2 separate regions of the Homo sapiens genome follow, and region 1 is linked to region 2. The links come from fine-mapping of genetic effects on plasma protein levels. A gene starts in region 2. The other region holds a variant in brackets. All regions are shown on one strand. Distances are between the middles of the regions.

Region 1 (9,870 bases), 130 kb after region 2:
TGTGGGATTGCTGTGAGGTTTAAATGAGATAATTCATGTAAAGCACTTAGCACAGTGCCTGGCTTATAGTAAGCAATCAGTAAAATTTAGAATACCGTCATCATTATTAATATTATCTGGCAGGTGGGGTGCAATGGCTCATGCCTGTAATCCCAGTGCTTTGGGAGGCAGAGGCAGTAGGATCTCTTGAGCTCAGGAGTTCAAGACCAGTCTGGGCAATACAGGGAGACACCATCTCTACAAAAAACAAAAAACAAATTAGCCAGGTATGGTGGCATGTTCCTGTAGTTCCAGCTACTTAGGGGTCTCGGGGGAGCCCAGGAGTGCAAGGCTGCAGTGAGCCATGATGATGCTACTGCACTCCAGCCTGGGCAACAGAGTGAGACCCTGTCTCAAAAAAAAAAAAAAAATTATCTGGCCAGCTAGAGTAGTTAACTCCAGGGCCACAGGTGATCATGATGGTTTTTAAAGAATCCAATGAGAATTGGGCAAATAATGCTTTTCCATTTTGCTGGAGGTGAGTGGCACAGAGTCAAAGTCCTCCAGCAAGATTGTTACCAAGAACTCATTAACTTAAATCTAGTTAAGTCAGCTTTCTTTAATTTCTTTTGTAGCTTTATGTAATTGACCTCTTCTCACCTTAAGGGCAGCCTTCATTTACTCTATGCAAGTAAAATTACTATGCAGAAAGTAAATCTCCTTCTAAAGTTTCCTGTTTCCTGGCATTCCTAGGGGGAGGCTCAGCAAGAATCCAAAGGGGAGGACCAGGGTGAAGTATATGTGTCAGAGATGGAAGACCAGCCCCCTTCAGGCGAGTGTGATGATGCCTTTAACATTAAGGAGACTCCCTTGGTGGATACACTTTTCAGCCATGCTACCTCCTCAAAGCTGTAAGCGTAGACTTTCATCCAAGTTTGTTAAGATTCGTACTTCTGTTTATGCCTATTTGAATCATGAAATGGATTACTTTTATAAGTTAAAGAAAATTAGAGTTGGAAAACACAAAAAATATAATTAATTAAGTATAATTTTAACATCATATAAATAGAAGTCTATATGCTCTCCTGTTATAAAACAAATATGTTTAATCAATATTAGGACTGTCTTTCAAGGCTAGGTGTGGTGGCTCACACCTGTAATTCCAGCACTTTGGGAGGCCAAGGCAGGAGGATCCCTTGATCCCAGGACTTTGAGACCAGCCTGGGCAACATAGGGAGACCATGCCTCTACAAAATAAAAATTAAAAAAAAATTAGCCAGGTATGGTGTCACTTGTCTATAGTCTCAGGTACTCCGGAAGCTGAGGTGGGAGGATCACCTGAGCCCAGGAGGTCAAGCTGCAGTGAGCCATGATTGTGCCACTGTACTCTAGCCAAGTCTGTATCACTCCAGCCTGGGTGATGGAGCTAATATTATACAAACTATGCCTAATATACAAACTATGGTGCTTTTTTTTTCTTTAATAGAGACAGGGTCTAGCTCCATCACCCAGGCTGGAGTGCAATGGGCACGATCATGACTCACTGCAGCTTGACTTCCTGAACTCAAGGGATCCTCCCACCTCAGGCTTCCAAGTAGCTGGGAATACAGCCATGGGCCACCACACCCAGCTGATTTTTTATTTTTTGTAGACAGGGCTGGCCTTGCTATATTGCCCAGGCTTGTCTTGAACTCCTGGTTTCAAGTGATCCTCCTACCTCAGCCTCCTAAAGTGTTGGGATTACAGGCTTGAGCCACTGTGCCTGGCCCAAACTATACCTCTTTTAAAAATATTAAAATAGATTTTATGAACTTGAAATGGAAAATTATTTTGATGGAGACAAGGAAGAGGATAAAAAAATTTTTTTTTAAAGAAAAAATTAGGCCAGGCGCAGTGGCTCACACCTGTAATCTCAGCACTTTGGGAGGCAGAGGCAGGAGGATTGCTTGAGCTCAGGATTTTGAGACTAGCCTGGGCAATATAGTGAAACCTCATCTTTACAAAAAATAAACAAAATTTATTGGGTGTGGGGGCATGCACCTGTAGTCCTAGCTACACAGGAGGCCAAGGCAGGAGGACTGCTTGAACTTGGGAGGTGAAGGTTACAGTGAGCTATGATCATGTCACTACACAGCCTGGGTGACAGAGCAAGACCCTGTCTCAGAAAACAAAACAAGAAATAAAAGAGAAGAAAAAAATTATTTTGAAGTTTGTGATCTTTGTTTCTTTTTCACATCTCTTAGGGGATTGTTTATGTCAAGCTTGTCTAATCCCTAGCCTGCAGCCCAGGACAGCTTTGAATGTGGCCAAACACAAATTCTTAAAACATTATGAGATTTATGCACTGACCCTTTTTTTTTCCCTTTTTTTTTTCTTTTTTTTTTTTTTTTTCCAGCTCATCAGCTATTGTTAGTGTATTTTATGTGTGGTCCAAGACAATTCTTCTTCTTCCTCCAGTGTGGCCCAGGGAAGCCAAAAGATTGGACACCCCTGGTTTATGCAATTGTCTCATCTTTGTATAGATAATTATAGGACTAAATAACACATTTTCAAATCTTAATGGGGGCTGTTTTTTTTTAACAGGAAACCAAAAAAATATTAATTTTTTTTTTTGAGATAGGATCTCACTCTGTTGCCCAAGTTAGAGTGCAATGGCATGATCTTGGCTCACTTCAGCCTCCGCCTCCTGGGCTCAGGTGATCCTCTCACCTCAGCCTCATGAATAGCTGGGAACACAGATGTGCACCACCACAACCAGCTGATTTTTTTGTATTTTTGTTAGAGACAGGGTTTCATCACATTGACCAGACTGGTCTCAAACTCCTGGACTCAAGCGATCCCCTGCCTTGGCCTCCCAAAGTCCTGGGATTATAGGCATGAACTACTGCATCTGGCATGAAGTGAATTACTTTTTAAAGCAGAAAAACAAAGTTGTTTTTATCTGTGACTCCTGGCCTCAAGTGATTCTCCTGCCTCAGCCTTTCAAAGTGCTGAGATTATAGGCATGAGCCACTACGTCCAGCAAAGTTATTTTTGTTATGGTAATAAATAAATTGTTCTTTTTCCAGCCTGTGTCAGATCCATCTGTTGAGAGAATATAGTATGAACTGTTTTTTTTTTCTTCAGTATATCCCAGATCCACCCAGTTGTCTGTGGAAAGGTAAAACTAATAATTATTCTAGTGTTTTTTTGTTTAAGATATACAGCTGAACCATGCATATATTTATATATGAATATATATATATATATATTTTTTGAAGAGCAGATTTCTTTTTTTTCTCATAGAGACAGGGTCTTGCTTTGTTGCCCAAGCTGGGTCTTGAACTCCTGGCTTCAAGCAATCCCACCTCAGCCTCCCAAAGTACTGGGATTATAAGCCTGAGCCACTGTGCCCAGCCTAGATTTCAATTTTTGGTACACAAATAGGATACAGTTTAAAATGTAGATTGGTGAGGAATGCCTTCATTTGCTTTTCTTTAACTCCTTAAGTATGAGCAATAGAGTGCAGAGATGACATACTGTGACTGTACAAACAGCAGGAAATCTGCAATCTGAGACTTTTTTTTTTTTTTTTTTTTTTTGAGACGGAGTTTCGCTCGGTCGCCCAGGCTGCAGTGCAGTGGCGTGATCTCGGCTCACTGCAAGCTCTGCCTCCTAGGTTCACACCATTCTCCTGCCTCAGCCTCCCAAGTAGCTGGGACTACAGGCACCCGCCACCACGCCCAGCTAATTTTTTGTGTATTTTTAGTAGAAACGGGGTTTCACCGTGTTAGCCAGGATGGTCTCAATCTCCTGACCTTGTGATCCGCCTGCCTCGGCCTCCCAAAGTGCTGGGATTACAGGCGTGAGCCACCACACCGGGCCCAATCTGAGACATCTTATCTCATGACAGTTCATAGTCTTGGATGGTAAATTCCACATTCTTACCTTACAATTTAGATTAAATATGAAATCTTTATTAGAAAGCAGTAGATATCCAGCCTGGGCAACGTAGTGGGACCTTGTCTCTACAACAAATACAGAAATTAGCTGCAGGGCGTGGTGGCATGTGCCTGGAGTCCCAGCTACTTGGGAGGCTGAGGCAGGAGGATCGCTTGAGCCCAGCAGGTTGAGGCTGCAGTAAGCCACGATCACACTACTGCACTCCAGCCTGGGCAACAGAGCAAGACCCTGTCTCAAAAAAAAAAAAAATTGGCTGGGCATGGTGGTTCATGCCTGTAATCCCAGCACTTTGGGAGGCTGAGGCGGGTGGATCACTTAAGGCCAGGAGTTTGAGACCAGCCTGGCCAACATGGCAAAACCCCGTCTCTATGGAAAATACAAAAATTAGTTGGGTGTGGTGGTATGCAACTTTAGTCCCAGCTACTTGGGAGGCTGAGGCAGGAGAATCGCTGGAACCCGGGAGGCAGAGGTTGCAGTGAGCTGAGATCATGCCACTGCACTCCAGCCTGGGCAACAGAGCAAGACTCTGTCTCAGAAAAATAAAATTAAAAAATTAAAAGAGAAAACAATAGATATTAATAACTAAGTCTGCTTGGCCAGATAAGGGGAGATAAAAAGCTTCAGATATTAATTAGGAGCATGTCTTAAGAAAACCTCATTACCCACCTGGGGGAGATAGAATATTATTTGTGAAGTTACTGTCTCTTTTCTTCATGTTTTATCCTCATAGGACTGATCTAAGCCAGGATGACCCTGTTCAGGATCATTTGCTATTTAAGAAGACTCTCCTGCCAGTCTGGAAGATGATTGCCAGTCACAGGTAGGTCTCCAAAGTGGTAATAGGATTATGTTCAGAGCTGAAGCAGTAATACATATTGGGGTTTAAGCATAAAAGGAGATATGTTCATCCCTCAAATGAGCCATAGTTGAAAGGTAGATTCTGTATCTAAGCCCGATTTATCCCAAAGTACCCACAGCTGCTTTCACAAGTCTGTACAAGAAATAGTTGCTGTGCCATTTGAGTTGCCTCTAGAAATTGGTTCCTACTACATGATAAAATTTATATTTAAAATGTATATTCTTCTTTTCAATCTGGTGGATTCTCTTTTTTCACAGAGACAGGGCCTTGGGAACTTTGAACAAATTTCTGAGCCCTAAATCAGTATATTGTAATAATAGTGAAATATTTTATAGTTTTGTGTTTTTTTTAACTCTCTGGCAAGAGGGAACAAATAGATTTTTTCCTAATGGTGCTGACAGTCTGCATTCCCCTAAAGGAAGTCTACTAAGAACTGAGCTACTCTTCTCCTTCAGAGTGCCTTGCCAGGGTTTCTTTATCCTCTCTGGGTTTGTCCCTTAACAGGTTCAGCAGTCCATTTCTGAAGCCTGTGTCAGAAAGGCAGGCCCCAGGGTACAAGGATGTGGTGAAAAGGTCAGTGAAAAAGGGGTCAAGAAAGGTTGGTTGCTTTTATATCTGCCTTTTCATTTTTTATTTCCCATCTGTTAGATTATTTTTATAACTTACAAACTCAAGATATGTTTCATAGCCAAACAAGTTTATAAAGTTATGATGAGCTCAGTATCATATCTTCATTTAAGAAGGAATGCAGGGAACAAAAGGATGATATAGGCTTTTTATTTTGTACTATTGACTTTTAAGTAATATGATCCATTCTATATATATATAT[A/T]TTTTTTTTTTTTTTTTTTTTTGACAGGGTCTCACTCTGTTGCCCAGGCTGGAGTGCAGTGGTACAGTCTTGGCTCACTGCAACATCCTCTTCCCAGGCTCAGCTATTCTCCAGCCTCAGCCTCCCAAGTAGCTAAGACTACAAGCATGAGCCATCACGTCCGGCTAATATTTGTATTTTTTGTAGAAACGGAGCTTTGCCATGTTGCCCAGGCTGGTCTTGAACTCCTGAGCTCAAGCAATCCACCTGCCTAGGCCTTCCAAAGGCTGGGATTATAGGTGTGAGCCTTGGTGTCCAGCCTGATCATTAATTATAATCTTAAATTAGCCTTTGGTTGTTTTTGACACTATTCTTTTGGAGCAAAACTTTAAAAGGAACCCTGTATTTATTCAGTTAGTTATAGGTATAGTAAGGCACAGATGTCGATCCAAATGGAAGTTATGAACATTGGTTGATTGTAGTATTGTGTCCGGAATTGGTTCCTTCCGGTGGGTTCTTGGTCTCGCTGACTTCAGGAATGAAGCTGCAGACTCTCGTGGTGTTACAGTTCTTAAAGATGGTGTGTCCAGAGTTTGTTCCTTCGGATGTTCAGATGTGTCCGGAGTTTCTTCCTCCCGGTGGGTTTGTGGTCTCGCTGAGTTCAGGAGTGAAGCTGCAGACCTTCACAGCGAGTGTTACAGCTCTTAAAGGTGGCGCCTCTGGAGTTGTTCGTTCCTCCCAGTGGGTTGGTGGTCTCGCTGGCTTCAGGAGTGAAGCTGCAGACCTTGGCGGTGAGTGTTACAGCTCTTAAAGGTGGTACATCCGGAGTTGTTTATTCCTCTTGTTGGGTTCGTGGTCTTGCTGGCTTCAGGAGCGAAGCGGCTGACCTTCACGGTGAGTGTTACAGTTCATAAAGGTAGTGCGGACCCAAAGAGTGAGGAGCAGCAAGATTTATTGCGGAGTGAAAGAACAAAGCCTCCACAGTGTGGAAGGGGACTCCAGCGGGTTGCCACTGCTGCCTTGAGGGGCCAGCTTTTATTCCCTTATTTGGCCTCCTCCACATCCTGCTGATTTGTCCATTTTACATAGTACTGATTGGTCCATTTTACAGAGTGCTGATTGGTCCATTTTTATAGAGTGCTGATTGGTGCGTTTACAAACCTTTTTTGGTGCGTTTTTACAGAGTGCTGATTGGTGCATTTACAAAGCTTTAGCTAGACACAGAGCGCTGATTGGTGCATTTACAAATGTTTAGCTAGACACAGAGCGCTGATTGGTGCGTTTTTACAGAGTGCTGATTGGTGTGTTTACAAACCTTTAGCTAGATACAGAGCACTGATTGGTGTGTTTACAATCCTTTAGCTAGACAGAAAAGTTCTCCAAGTCCCACCCAACCCAGAAGCCCAGCCAGCTTCACCTCTCAGTATTTTGGGATTTTATTTTTATTTTTTATTTAAAAAAATTTTTTTGAGACAGGGTCTCACTCTGTTGCTGGAGTGCAGTGGTGCAATCATGGTTCACTGCAGCCTTGACCTCCTGGGCTCAAGCAATCTTCCCACTTCAGCCTCCGGAGTAGCTGGGACTACAGGCATGTGCCACTGCACTTAGCTAATTTTTAAATTTATTATTTTTTAAATTTTTACTTACTATTATTTTTTGAGACAGGTCTCACTCTGTTGCTCAGGCTGGAGTGCAGTGGCACATTTCTTGGATAACTGAGCCTCAACTGCCCAGGTTCAAGCAATCCTTCCACCTCAGCCTCCCTAATAACTGGGTCTAGAGGTGTGTGCCACCATGCCCGGCTAATTTTTGTATTTTTTATAGAGATAGAGTTTCACCATGGTGCCCAGGCTTGTCTCAGACTCCTGGGCTCATGCAGTTCACCCACCTCAGCCTCCCAAAGTGCTGGGATTACAGGTGTGAGCCACTGTGCCTGGCCTGATATTTTTATTATAATAAAATATTTTCTTTGTTTGAAATGTTATTAATAACTTTATTTTTCTTCAGAATATCACTGAGGAGGAATTTTTAAATTTTTTGTAGATATGGGGTCTCACTAGATTGCCCAGGTTGGTCTTAAGCTCGTAGTCTCAAGCAATCCTCCCACCTCAGCCTTCCAAAATGCTGGGATTACAGGCAGGTAATCCTAGCCTATTTTGGATTTTTTTTTTTTTTTTTTTTTGAGACAGTCTTGCTCTGTCACCAGGCTGGAGTGCAGTGATGAGATCTCGGCTCACTGCAACCTCCGCCTCCCGGGTTCAAGTGATTCTCCTGCCTCAGCCTCCTGAGTAGCTGGAACCACAGGCACACGTCACCACGCCCAGCTAATTTTTGTATTTTTAGTAGAGACAGGGTTTCACTATGTTGGCCAGGATGGTCTCAATCTCTTGACCTCGTGATCCGCCTGCCTCGGCCTCCCAAAGTGCTGGGATTACAGGCTTGAACCACTGTGCTCGGCCTATTTTGGGTTTTTATAGCATAGGTCATCTAAAATGCTGTCATAAACCTGTATGGTAATAGAATGTAAAAGATCATGATAGGACCTTTGGAGAGTCACTAGTCTGTGCTGCTATAGCACAATACCACAGGCTGGATAATTTATAAATAATAGAAATCTATGTTTCTTTGTTTTGGTTCTGGAGGCTGGGAAGTGCAAGATCAAGGCATTGGTAGTTTTGGTGTGTGAGGTGGGTTACTCTCTGCTTCTGCTTCTAAGATGATGCCTTGTTGTTGTATTCTGCAGAGGGGACGAATGCTGTATCCTCACATGGCAGAAGGGACAGAAGGATAAGAGGGCACTCTCTTCGATATGGAGCCCTTTTATAAGGATGCTAATCCCATTCATGAAGGCAGAGCACTCATGAATTAATTACCTCCCAAAGGCTCCACCTCTTAATACTGTTGCACTTGGGATTAAGTTTCAACATGAATTTTGGAGGGGATACCATCATTCAAACAGCAGAGACAATGATACCATCATTCAAACAGCAGAGACAAACTTCTTTAGGAATGAGGAAACTAAAGCTCAGAGGTGCTTGGTCATGACTTGCTCGTGATCAACCAACAGTTAATAGCAGAGCTAGAACTAAGCCCCAGATTCTTACCTGCAGTTCAGTCTTCTTTCTACACTGCTGTGCCTTCTCTTATATATCTACTTTCTGTGTCTCATTAATATTGTCTTAATATTCACTTGATCCTTTTTTCATCTCCATGAAAGGAGAAAAAAATTATTCTTAGCTTTTTATTTGTGCAGTAAGAGAAGTAGATGAAATAATATATGACTATACATTGTAAACAGCAAATAACTACTGTGTGATAAACTGATGATTGGTGCTCTTTACAACTTTGATACCTGGGGCCAGCACTCCTCCTCTGATAGTAGAATATAGTGGCTTGACCTGTGGGCTCTGGAGTCAGGCTGCCTCTGAATTGGAATTCAGGCTGTGTGCCTTTCAGTGAGTACTTAACCTCTTTAGATTTCAATTTCTTCATCTGTGAAATGGAGATAATAAGGCCGGGGGCGGTGGCTCACACTTGTAATCCCAGTACTTTGGGAGGCCAAGGAAGGTGGATCCCCTGAGGCTAGGAGTTCGAGACTAGCCTGACCAACATGGTGAAACCCTATCTCTACTAAAAATACAAAAATTAGCTGGGCATGATGGCGCACGCCTGTAATCCCAGCTATTCTGGAGGCTGAGACAGGGGAATTGCTTGAACCTGGAAGGTGGAAGTTGCAGTGAGCTGAGATTGCTCCATTGCACTCCGGCCTGGGCAACAAGAGTGAAACTCCGACTCAAAAAAAAAAAAAATGAGATATTAATGATACCTACCTTACAGGTTTATTGAGAGGATTAAGTGAGTTAGTATAGAAATACAGTGTTTGGCCCATTGTAAACAGGCAAATATTAACTGCTGTTGCTATTTTATTATCTGATGAGGGTTGTTATCTTTGCTACTGTTTTCATTAAGAACTGGTTAGTTCTTCAAGAGAACGTGTTAGGTTATCATATGTTCCACATGAAGGTTTGATTTTCTTTGTTTTTTCTTGGCCACCTGCAGACCCATGGACTTAACTAGCCTGAAGAGAAATCTCTCTAAGGGTCGGATTCGCACCATGGCCCAATTCCTGCGAGACCTGATGCTGATGTTCCAAAATGCTGTAATGTACAATGACTCTGATCATCATGTATACCATATGGCTGTGGAGATGCGGCAAGAAGTCCTGGAGCAGATTCAGGTACTGTATGCAGATACCTGTAGCCTCTGGAATCTTGATTTCAGA
Region 2 (9,554 bases):
ACAAGAGCGAAACTCCGTCTCAAAAAAAAAAAATGGAGTTTTGCTCTTGTTGCCCAGGCTGGAGTGCAATGGCACAATCTTGGCTTACTGCAACCTCCGCCTCCCGGGTTCAAGTGATTCTCCTGTCTCAGCCTCCCAAGTAGCTGGGATTACAGGCGCCTGCCACCATGCCTGGCTAATTTTTTTGTATTTTTAATAGAGACAGGGTTTCACCATGTTGGTCAAGCTAGTCCCAAACTCCTGACCTCAGGTGATCCACCTGCCTTGGCTTCTCAAAGTGCTGGGATTACAGGCATGAGCCACTGCGTCTGGCCTTCTACGAATAATTTTTAAAAATTAGCCAGGTGTGGTGGTGTGCACCTGTAGTCCCACCTACTTGAGAGGCTGAAGTGGGAGGATCACTAGAGCATGTGAAGTTGAGGCTGTGGTGAGCCATGATTGCACCACTGTGCTCCAGCCTGGGCAGTAGAGTGAGACCCTGTCTCAAAAAAAAAAAAAAAAAAAGGAAGAAAGAAAAAGAAAAAAAATACCTGAGACTGGGTAATTTTTTTTTTTTTTGAGACAGAGTCTTGCTCTGTCACCCCTGCTGGAGTGCAGTGGCATGATCTCAGCTCACTGCAAGCTCTGCCTCCTGGGTTCATGCCATTCTCCTGCCTCAGCCTCCCGAGTAGCTGGGACTACAGGTGCCCGCCACCACGTCAGGCTAATTTTTTTTTTTCATTTTTAGTAGAGATGGGGTTTCACCGTGTTAGCCAGGATGGTCTCAATCTCCTGACCTCATGATCCGCCCATCTCGGCCTCCCAAAGTGCTGGGATTACAGGCGTGAGCCACCGCGCCCGGCTTTTTTTTTTTTTTGGAGACAGGGTCTCACTGTGTCACCCAGGCTATAGTGTGGTGGCATGATCTTGGCTCACTGCAACCTCTGCCTTAGCCTCCCAAGTAGCTGGGACTACAGGCCGACACCACCATGCCTGGCTGACCACCATGCTTGCCTGGGAGACTGAACAATTTATAAGGAAAAGAAGCTTAATTAGCTCATGGTTCTGCAGGCTTTATGGGAAGCATGGTGTTGGCATCTGCTCAGCTCCTGGGTAGGCCTCTGGAAGCTTACAATCATGTCAGAAGGTGAAGGAGAAGCAGACATGTCACATATCCAGAGCAGGAGCAAGAGAGGGAGGGAGTTATGGGAGGAGGTGCCACACACTTTTAAATGACTGGATCTCTTGTGAACTCAGTGACAGCTCACTTATCCCCAAGAGAATGGCCCAAGCCATTCATGAAGGATCCACCCCCATGATCCAGACACCTCCACCAGGCCCCACCTCCAACATTAGGGATTACATTTCATCATGAGATTTGGGTGGGGACAAATATCCAAACTATATTAAGGAGGAATATTTCCCTTTCTTTATCAGGAGTATAAAGTAGGAGGCATGGGGGATTCTCTCCCTGTTCTGTTCAGGCATAGGTTAAGGAAACACCAATTCCTTTAAACATATGCATCTGGAGTTGCCAATTCTGAGTATCACAGTTGTTAAAATATGACACAGTCCCTGCCCTCAAGAAATTGACAAGGTAGAAAAATAAAAAATGGCTCTTTTTGTTTCCATCCCTACAAGCACTCTGGTCTAGTAGTATATTCAGCAAAAGGAGCAAAAAGTGCCACTTCCAGCTCCAAATCAGCAGGTCGGGTGGTGGGGTCTGGCCAAGTTCACACACAGAATAATTAACTCCTGCATGCTACCTGGGATGATATTTATTCGATGCTTGCTATATGCCAGGTATAATGCTACACCTTTTTTTTTCTTTTCTTTTTTTTTTTTTGAGTCGGAGTCTCGCTCTACTGCCCAGGCTGGAGTGCAATAGCATGATCTTGGCTCACTGCAACCTCCGCCTCCTGGGTTCAAGCAATTCTTCTGCCCCACTGAGCCTCCCGAGTAGCTGGGAATACAGGCATGTGCCACCATGCCCGGCTAATCTTTGTAATTTTAGTAGAGATGGGGTTTCATCATATTGGCCAGGCTGGTCTTGAACTCCTGACCTCGTGATCCGCCCACCTTGGCCTCCCAAAGTGCTGGGATTACAGGCGTGAGCCACCGCGCCCAGCCTACACCTTCATTTAAATACTATACTCATTTAATCCTCACAATGTGAAATAGATACTATTATCCTTAATTTTACAGGTGAAGAAATGGAAGCACAGAAAAATTAAGTGACTTGCCCAAGGTCATCCAGCTAGTGTCGGCATTTGAATCTAGGCAGTCTGTAAAGCTTGTGGTCTTAACTATTTATTATACTGCTAACATCCTGGATTAGGATAGCAGCAGGAATTAAAGCTCAATGGAGAGAGAGAGGACTTGAGAGAAGGTAGAATCCATGTAATCTGACCATAAGAGGAGAAAATTGAGATTACAAGTGAAAGTGGAATAAGATACAGGGTCTTTGGGCATTTGAGTTGCAATCAGTGGATTGTAACACCCTCCCCGAGCAGGATTTGTGTCTTAATCATTTTGCACCTAGCATAAAGCTGGGCTCATAATCATTCTCAAAACACATTATTGAATTGAATGATGGATGAGTAACATCATCTCTGTAGAAAGGACTGGCTCATTTGTCATTGTCCACAAGGGGCAATGCTGCTTATCTAGCAGGTGTTGGCAGTCACAGAGGACATGGTTGGTGGAGAGGGTGTGCTGGAGGGCTGTCAATATTAGTCTTGGAGTCATATTTATTTGCAGAGCTTCTCCAATCCTCATTAAAGGCCCAATGATATGAGGCTCTCCACCCCTGTACCCAGACAGAAATATGCACCAGACACTTTATTTTCTCTCATGAAAAGGCTGGCCTGTTACAGGTGGGATTGGTCATTGCTCCCAGCCCGTCAGCTTGATACTGCATTCTTGGTCTATTCTGTGGGGACAGCCCTGGAATAGACACTGAGTATCTATCAGAGTAGGCACCCTGAGCAAACTTCCTTTCCCAAACCCTCTTCCTGCCCATAACATGATTTGGCTTGGGCTGGAGGAGGGGGAGGGCAGAGGAGACACCCCTTGACCACCTCACATCTTTGTTGGTTCATGGGTCTCAGCCCTTTCCTATCATCCCAAAGAGCCTGAAATTGTTACATTTTGCTTTATAAATTCCTTTCTTAAGTATTGTCAGTTTCAAAAAAAAAAACCCAAAAAACGATTGTCTGCCTGTAATAGCAGGTGTGAGAGAAAATGAGGTGCCTGGAGCATATTTCTCTCTGGCAATGGGGTAGAGGGCCTGACATCATGGGGCCTTTAATGGTAGCCCCCCAGCTTCATGTTCCCTCACCTTTCTGGAGAGGAGGGCTTGGGAAAGGCACATGGAGATAGGGTGGAGCTGGGGGAAAACAGGCCTTGTACAAAAGCTGAGTAGCCAGATGTTCACTTTTACAGCTCTTCTGTAAAACTGGCAGGGCAGATATAGATTAAAACGAAGGACAAACTCCATTTAAAGTGCATTACAGCTCAGGAACCAGCACCCCCTGGGCAGGAGAAGGGAGGGAAGGGCACAGAGGCCACATCAGTCTCCTTCCTTATCTAGGGCCACATGTCTCTCTCCTAGCTTTGCCAAGGGTGATTTACACCCCCAGCTGGAATGACTCTCTTTCTGGGCTGATTACATCGGCAAATGCCCCCCAGAGGCCACAGCAGGATGGCCATATTCAGAAGCAGCAGCCAATAAATCTCAGAGGTTTATATTGCGATTCTCAGTACTCCCTGCTGGCCCTCTGCCAGGCTGGCTGTGGAAGTAAGGAGGGGGTCAAGTTAGAGGGTTAGGGGATGAAACCCTCCACTTCCTTTCATCACCCTCTTCTCCTTCTCTCTTTCTATGCGCTGCTTAGTTCTCATTCTTCCAAGCCATTCTGCTTCTGGCTTTATCCTGGGATCTTGTGGGAATCAGGCCCAGGCCCAATAAATACCCTTATCCTTATGGGTAGACGTCCTGTGTTCTGGGCACAGATGTGTTTCTACCTAGTTGTTTAATCCTGATAGAGTAGCTTGCTCTCCGAAAGTCTCATCATGTGAAAAGGATGGGCTCCTAAATGGTCTCTCCAGGCACCTTCCTCAGTGAGCTTTGGTCCAAGGAAATCTCTGCTATTTAGTGGAGAGTTTAATCTTCCATCTTCCCTCACGACACCATCGGGGCTGAATTTTGGAATCTAATGCCCCAGGTCTGCTCCCCCAGCAAAGCCATTCCACCTGTCTGCGACCCATCTTTGCAGCATCTTGAGCTTAATAACCACCCAATCTTACCCTAGAAGACACTTAGGAGAGGAAAAAACGAGATCATAGATGTGCAAATTCTAAGAAAAATACTAGAAATGCAAGTGCCCTTGTGTTGGCTTGTTCAAGTTTTGTTACAAAATCTCTTTTGTGGTGGTGTCTGTTCTTTGATGTGTGGGTGAGTGGGATCCAGAAAGTGAGAAAGGGTGCTTTTCTTGGAGAAATATTTGGTTCTCCTAGATGGCGAGTTTCCAGCGGCAGCTTCCACAATGTCTTGCTAGTCGAACTTGTCAGACAGCAGGTGGGCCGCCTCGGAAAGAGCAACCTCTTCCGCACCAAGCCCGGCGGCTCCCGGGGCGCCGGCCCTCCCCCGCCCCCACCCCCGCGGTCCCTCGGACCAGCGCTGGAGGCGCGTGGTGTGGACGCGCGCTTCGGAGTTGGAGGGCGGCGCCCAGGACCCTGGTGGGAGAGTGTGTGCGTCGCGCTGGAGGGCGGGAGGCGGGGGCGGGAGGTGCCGGTCGAGGGAGCCCCGCTCTCAGAGCTCCAGGGGAGGAGCGAGGGGAGCGCGGAGCCCGGCGCCTACAGCTCGCCATGGTGCGCCCCCTGAACCCGCGACCGCTGCCGCCCGTAGTCCTGATGTTGCTGCTGCTGCTGCCGCCGTCGCCGCTGCCTCTCGCAGCCGGTGAGTGTCAGAGCGCGCACCGGCCGGGGGTACAGTGGGAGGGGGAGGTGAGGTGTAGGCGAGGCCCGGGGCACCTGTCCGGAGAGGGCGCAGCAGCCTCCCGGTGCATCCGAGCCGAACAAGGGGAACTGGAGCAGGAAGCCCAGGGTGCCTGCAAGGGGCTGGGGTCACACCTAACACAGTGTACGAACTGAGATAGACTGAGTGCCAGCAATGGCCTGGCCACCCAAGCATCTCCTCCTCGCCCCTTTTTCCCCCCTCTTCCCTCTTTTGAGGTAGGTCTACACAGTCACAGAACAACCCACAGCCAGGTCACTACCAAGACAGCGTCTCTAAGAGGCGGGGAGAATCAGATCAGAAACAGAGTGTCATTTGCTCCACGTGGGCTTTAACTCTTCCATCTGCTTTAAGGACTGAGGAAGAAACTAGGTACAGGTGAAGAAAAAGAAGTTCGTTAAAACTGACTTGTTTCATAACCTTCTACAATAGCAGGCCTTGCAAGCCGTCTAGCACAGTGGCTTGCCCCTTGGATAATAAATAATCCACAATAGATGTTTTGTAGATGTAGTTCAAGGCCTGGTTTTAGAACCAGGCCACTCCCCCAAGGAAGAACAGCCTGGGATCCGAGATCCCTGGAAGGCCCATGGCCTTCGTGAGTGGTATGGGTGTGTGGAATCTTATTATGCGGCTCCTGCCCAGAGACTGAATGGAGGGACTCCTGAGACAGAGAGACCACCACACTGCCCTGAGACCTCAGTCCACAACGCAGTGCTGTAGAAATGCTGCCTTGAGACAGATATGGAAGGAAGGAGGAAAAACCCTGGTCTGTCCACCTGCCAACATCAGTAAGTCAGGGCAGCAAGACATCACCAGTCTGATTTGACTGCCCAGGAAATTTCACTAATCCTAAAGGTTATGGCTGCATGTCAGGATCAGGGGAAAACATTAAACACCTTTCTCATTAAATGGTTTAATGAAGCAGTGTTGGTGACAGATCTATTTTCCACAGTAATACTTGACAGCAATGACATCTGGTTAAGTAGCCTCATTGAAAATCCATAAAACAGTCATCTAGGAGGTACCATGTAGAGCCAAGTGCTCTTCAAGAGCACAGACCAACAGAGGGCTTTGGGGGTGGAAAATATCATTGCTCAGGGCCTGCTAAAGCCAAGCATATAGGAGACCTCCGATTCATGGGGAAGTGGTGTCATGTACTGAAAATCATTCTGAAGTGGATAGGAGGCTGGAGTCCTGGGTTCTAGCCTTGACTCGGTCTTGACTTGCTACATCCCCTGGTGCACATTACTTTTCTTTGTTCATCCAACTATAAAATGGATACCTGGGTTGTGGGCCTCACTGATGAGAAACAAATGAGGATCTTGTGCCCTGAGGCATAGCCTGATCTGACCCATTCTGTAGCTACTCATTCTCTGATGAGCCAAGAAGCAGAAAACAAAGTTACAAAACCAGGTTGCTAACAAATCAATATGAAATAGACGTGGCAGTGGCTGTATAAATGAGGAGGTGGGGCAAGTAATAGAAAGTGGTATGGACTATAACAAGCTGGAAAAGGCATGACTTGTCAAAAGGGGGCAGTCATTACTCCACCCGTTACATGTGGGCCCGAGTGTTTCCATTTTTCAAGACAAATTGGAAATTAATAGTTTTATTTGAAATCTGATTTTTTTTTTGAGACAGGGTATCAATCTGTCACCCAGGCTGGAGTTCAGTGGTGTGATTCCAGTTCACTGCAGCCTCAACCTCCCATACTCAAGTAATCCTTCTGCCTCAGCCTCCCCAGTAGCTGGGACTGTAGTAGTGTGCCACCACACCTGGTTAATTTTTGTATTTTTTGTAGAGACGGGTTTTTGCCATCTCGGATGCCCAGGCTGATCTTGAATCCTGGGCTCAAACAGTCTGCCCACCTTGGCCTCCCAAAGTGCTGCAATTAAAGGTGTGCGCCACCGCACCCGGCCTAAAATCTGATTTTTAAATGTTGGCCACTAATTACAACTTTAAGAAAATACTGGCTGGGTGCAGTGGCTCACACCTGTAATCCCAGCACTTTGGGAGGCTGAGACGGGTAGATCACGAGGTCAGGAGATTGAGACCATCCTGGCTAACACAGTGAATCCCCGTCGCTACTAAAAAATAGAAAAAATTAGCCAGGCATGCTGGTGGGCGCCTGTAGTCCCAACTACCCGGGAGGCTGAGGCAGGAGAATGGCGTGAACCTGGGAGGTGGAGCTTGCAGTGAGCTGAGATCGCGCCACTGCACTCCAGCCTGGGTGACAGAGCGAGACTCCGTCTCAAAAAAAAAAAAAAGAAAAAGAAAATACTGTGAACGTGCAAAAAAAACCAACCAAACAAACAAATAAAACAACCAAACCACACACACACACACACACACACACACACACAAAAAAAAAAAAAAAAAAAAAACAGAAAAGAAAATACTGCCGGGAATGGTGGCTCACGCCTATAATCCCAGCATTTTGGGAGGCCAAGGTGGGTGGATTGCTTGAGCTCAAGAGTTCGAGACCAGCCCGGGCAACATGGTGAAAACCCATCTCTACAAAAAATACAAAATTAGCTGGGCGTGGTAGTGCATGCATGCAGTCCCAGCTACTTGGGAGGCTGAGGTGGGAGAATTCACCTGAGCCTGGGAGGTCGAGACTGTAGGCTGCAGTGAGTGGCGATTGTACCACTGCACTCCAGTCTGGGTGACAGAGATTAAAAGAAAGAAAAGAAAAGGAGAAAGGAGAAAGAAAAAGAAAGGAACGGAACTATGCTGACTAAAAAAGACACATTTGCACACTGGATCAAATTATGACCTTTGCCCTGGATCAAGTCCTGTGTTTCACAATCCAGGAAACACAGGTTCCACCTTGTTGAGATGAAATTTAACGTGGCCCCCAAGTTCTTTGTTGAGATGAATGCCCCTAAATCCATCACTGCTCAAACTTGGTAAAGTGTCAACTAAGAAATTGTTTTCTTTTGAAAATGTTTACAACTCAATAGTTAGTACAGTTAAATATTTATGGCCGGGCACAGTGGCTCATGCCTGTAATCCCAGCACTTTGTTGAGGCCGAGGCGGGCAGATCACCTGAGGTCGGGAGTTCAAGATCAGCCTGACCAACATCGAGAAATCGCATCTCTACTAAAAATACAAAATTAGCCAGGCATGGTGGGGCATACCTGTAATCCCAGCTAGTTGGGAGGCTGAGGCAGGAGAATCGCTTGAACCCGGGAGGCAGAGGTTGCAGTGAGCCGAGATCGCGCCACTGCACTCCAGCCTGGGTAACAAGAGCAAAACTCCACCTCAAAAAAAAAAAATTATTTTTAGTCCAGTTACAACAATAGAACTTGAATCTGCCACTTTTCTTTGTGTACTTACCACTTATTCAGTACCTACCGGAAGTAACATCGTAAACTTGTAGAAATTCCTCAATCTTTTTAAATCCATGTTCCCCTTTTGGTAAATATATAAAATCTCATACCTTCCTTAAATACTTTTTGAAATCTCAAAAGCTTTTTTTTTCATCTTGTACATGTAAAATTATCAAATATGCTTTTTGGAAATACATATTTCCTAGAGAAATTCTGATATACTTTTTCTTTTCCATAGGTTATTGGGGTACATACAGGTGGTGTTTGGTTACATAAGTAAGTTCTTTAGTGCTGATTTATGAGATTTTGGTGTACCCATCACCCAAGAAGTATATACTGCACCCTATTTGTAGTCTTTTATCCCTTCCCCTCCCCCACGCTTCCCCCCAAGTCCCCAAGTCCATTGTATCATTCTTATGCCTTTGTATCCTCATAGCTTAGCTCCCACATATCAGTGAGAATATACGATGTTTGGTTTTCCATTCCTGAGTTACTTCACTTAGAATAATAGTCTCCAATCTCATCTAGGTTGCTGCAAATGCTGTTAATTCATTCCTTTTTTTTTTTTTTTTGAGACGGAGTCTGGCTCTGTCGCCCGGGCTGGAGTGCAGTGGCGTGATCTCGGCTCACTGCAAGCTCCGCCTCCCGGGTTCGCGCCATTCTCCTGCCTCAGCCTCCGAGTAGCTGTACAGGTGCCTGCCAGCACACCTGGCTAACTTTTTTTTTTTTTTTTTTTTTGTATTTTTAGTGGAGACGGGGTTTCACTGTTTTAGCCAGGATGGTCTTGATCTCCTGACCTTGTGATCCGACTGTCTCAGCCTCTCAAAGTGCTGGGATTACCGGCGTGAGCCACCATGCCTGGCCAATTCATTCCTTTTTATGGCTGAGTAGTATTCTATTCTATCACAATTTCTGTTCCATTCGTTGATTGATGGGCATTTGGGTTGGTTCCATGATTCTGCAATTGCAAATTGTGCTGCTATAAACATGAGTGTGCAAGTATCTTTTTGGTATAATGACTTCTTTTCCTCTGGGTAGACACTCAGTAGTGGGACTGCTGGATCAAATGGTAGTTCTACTTTTTTTTTTTTTTTTTTTTGAGATGGAGTCTTGCTGTGTCACCACCAGGCTGGAGTGCAATGGCATGATCTCGGCTCACTGCAACCTCCGCCTCCCAGGTTCAAGCGATTCTCCTGCCTCAGCCTCCTCAGTAGCTGGGACTATAGGC

Alleles and levels. Alleles are on the strand shown, and positions count from the first base shown. The strength of an association depends on the size of the effect and on how common the allele is.
For the plasma level of the protein whose gene starts at base 4,649 in region 2, A is the low allele of the variant in region 1 and T is the other (weak association).

Evidence for each region. PIP is the posterior inclusion probability: the model's chance that the variant is causal. The UK Biobank Pharma Proteomics Project read protein levels with antibody pairs (Olink). The fine-mapping took linkage between variants from a reference panel, not from the people measured, so its PIPs are less certain.
Region 1: its variant is fine-mapped to the plasma level of the GFRA3 protein (UK Biobank, PIP above 0.99).

Annotation. Positions count from the first base shown.
Region 1 is chr5:138,140,660-138,150,529 of GRCh38, reverse strand. BRD8 (bromodomain containing 8) reads left to right here. Exons shown (of 27, transcript NM_139199.2): 23 at 733-890; 24 at 4,652-4,741; 25 at 5,285-5,353; 26 at 9,648-9,825. Among named protein-coding and RNA genes, the nearest start is that of NME5, 6.2 kb to the right of the region's middle. The variant A/T (reference allele first, on the strand shown) is at 5,610.
Region 2 is chr5:138,269,716-138,279,269 of GRCh38, reverse strand. It overlaps GFRA3 (GDNF family receptor alpha 3), which reads left to right and starts at 4,649. Exons shown (of 8, transcript NM_001496.4): 1 at 4,649-4,936. The coding sequence starts at 4,846. RefSeq lists silencers at 4,557-4,646, 4,737-4,926.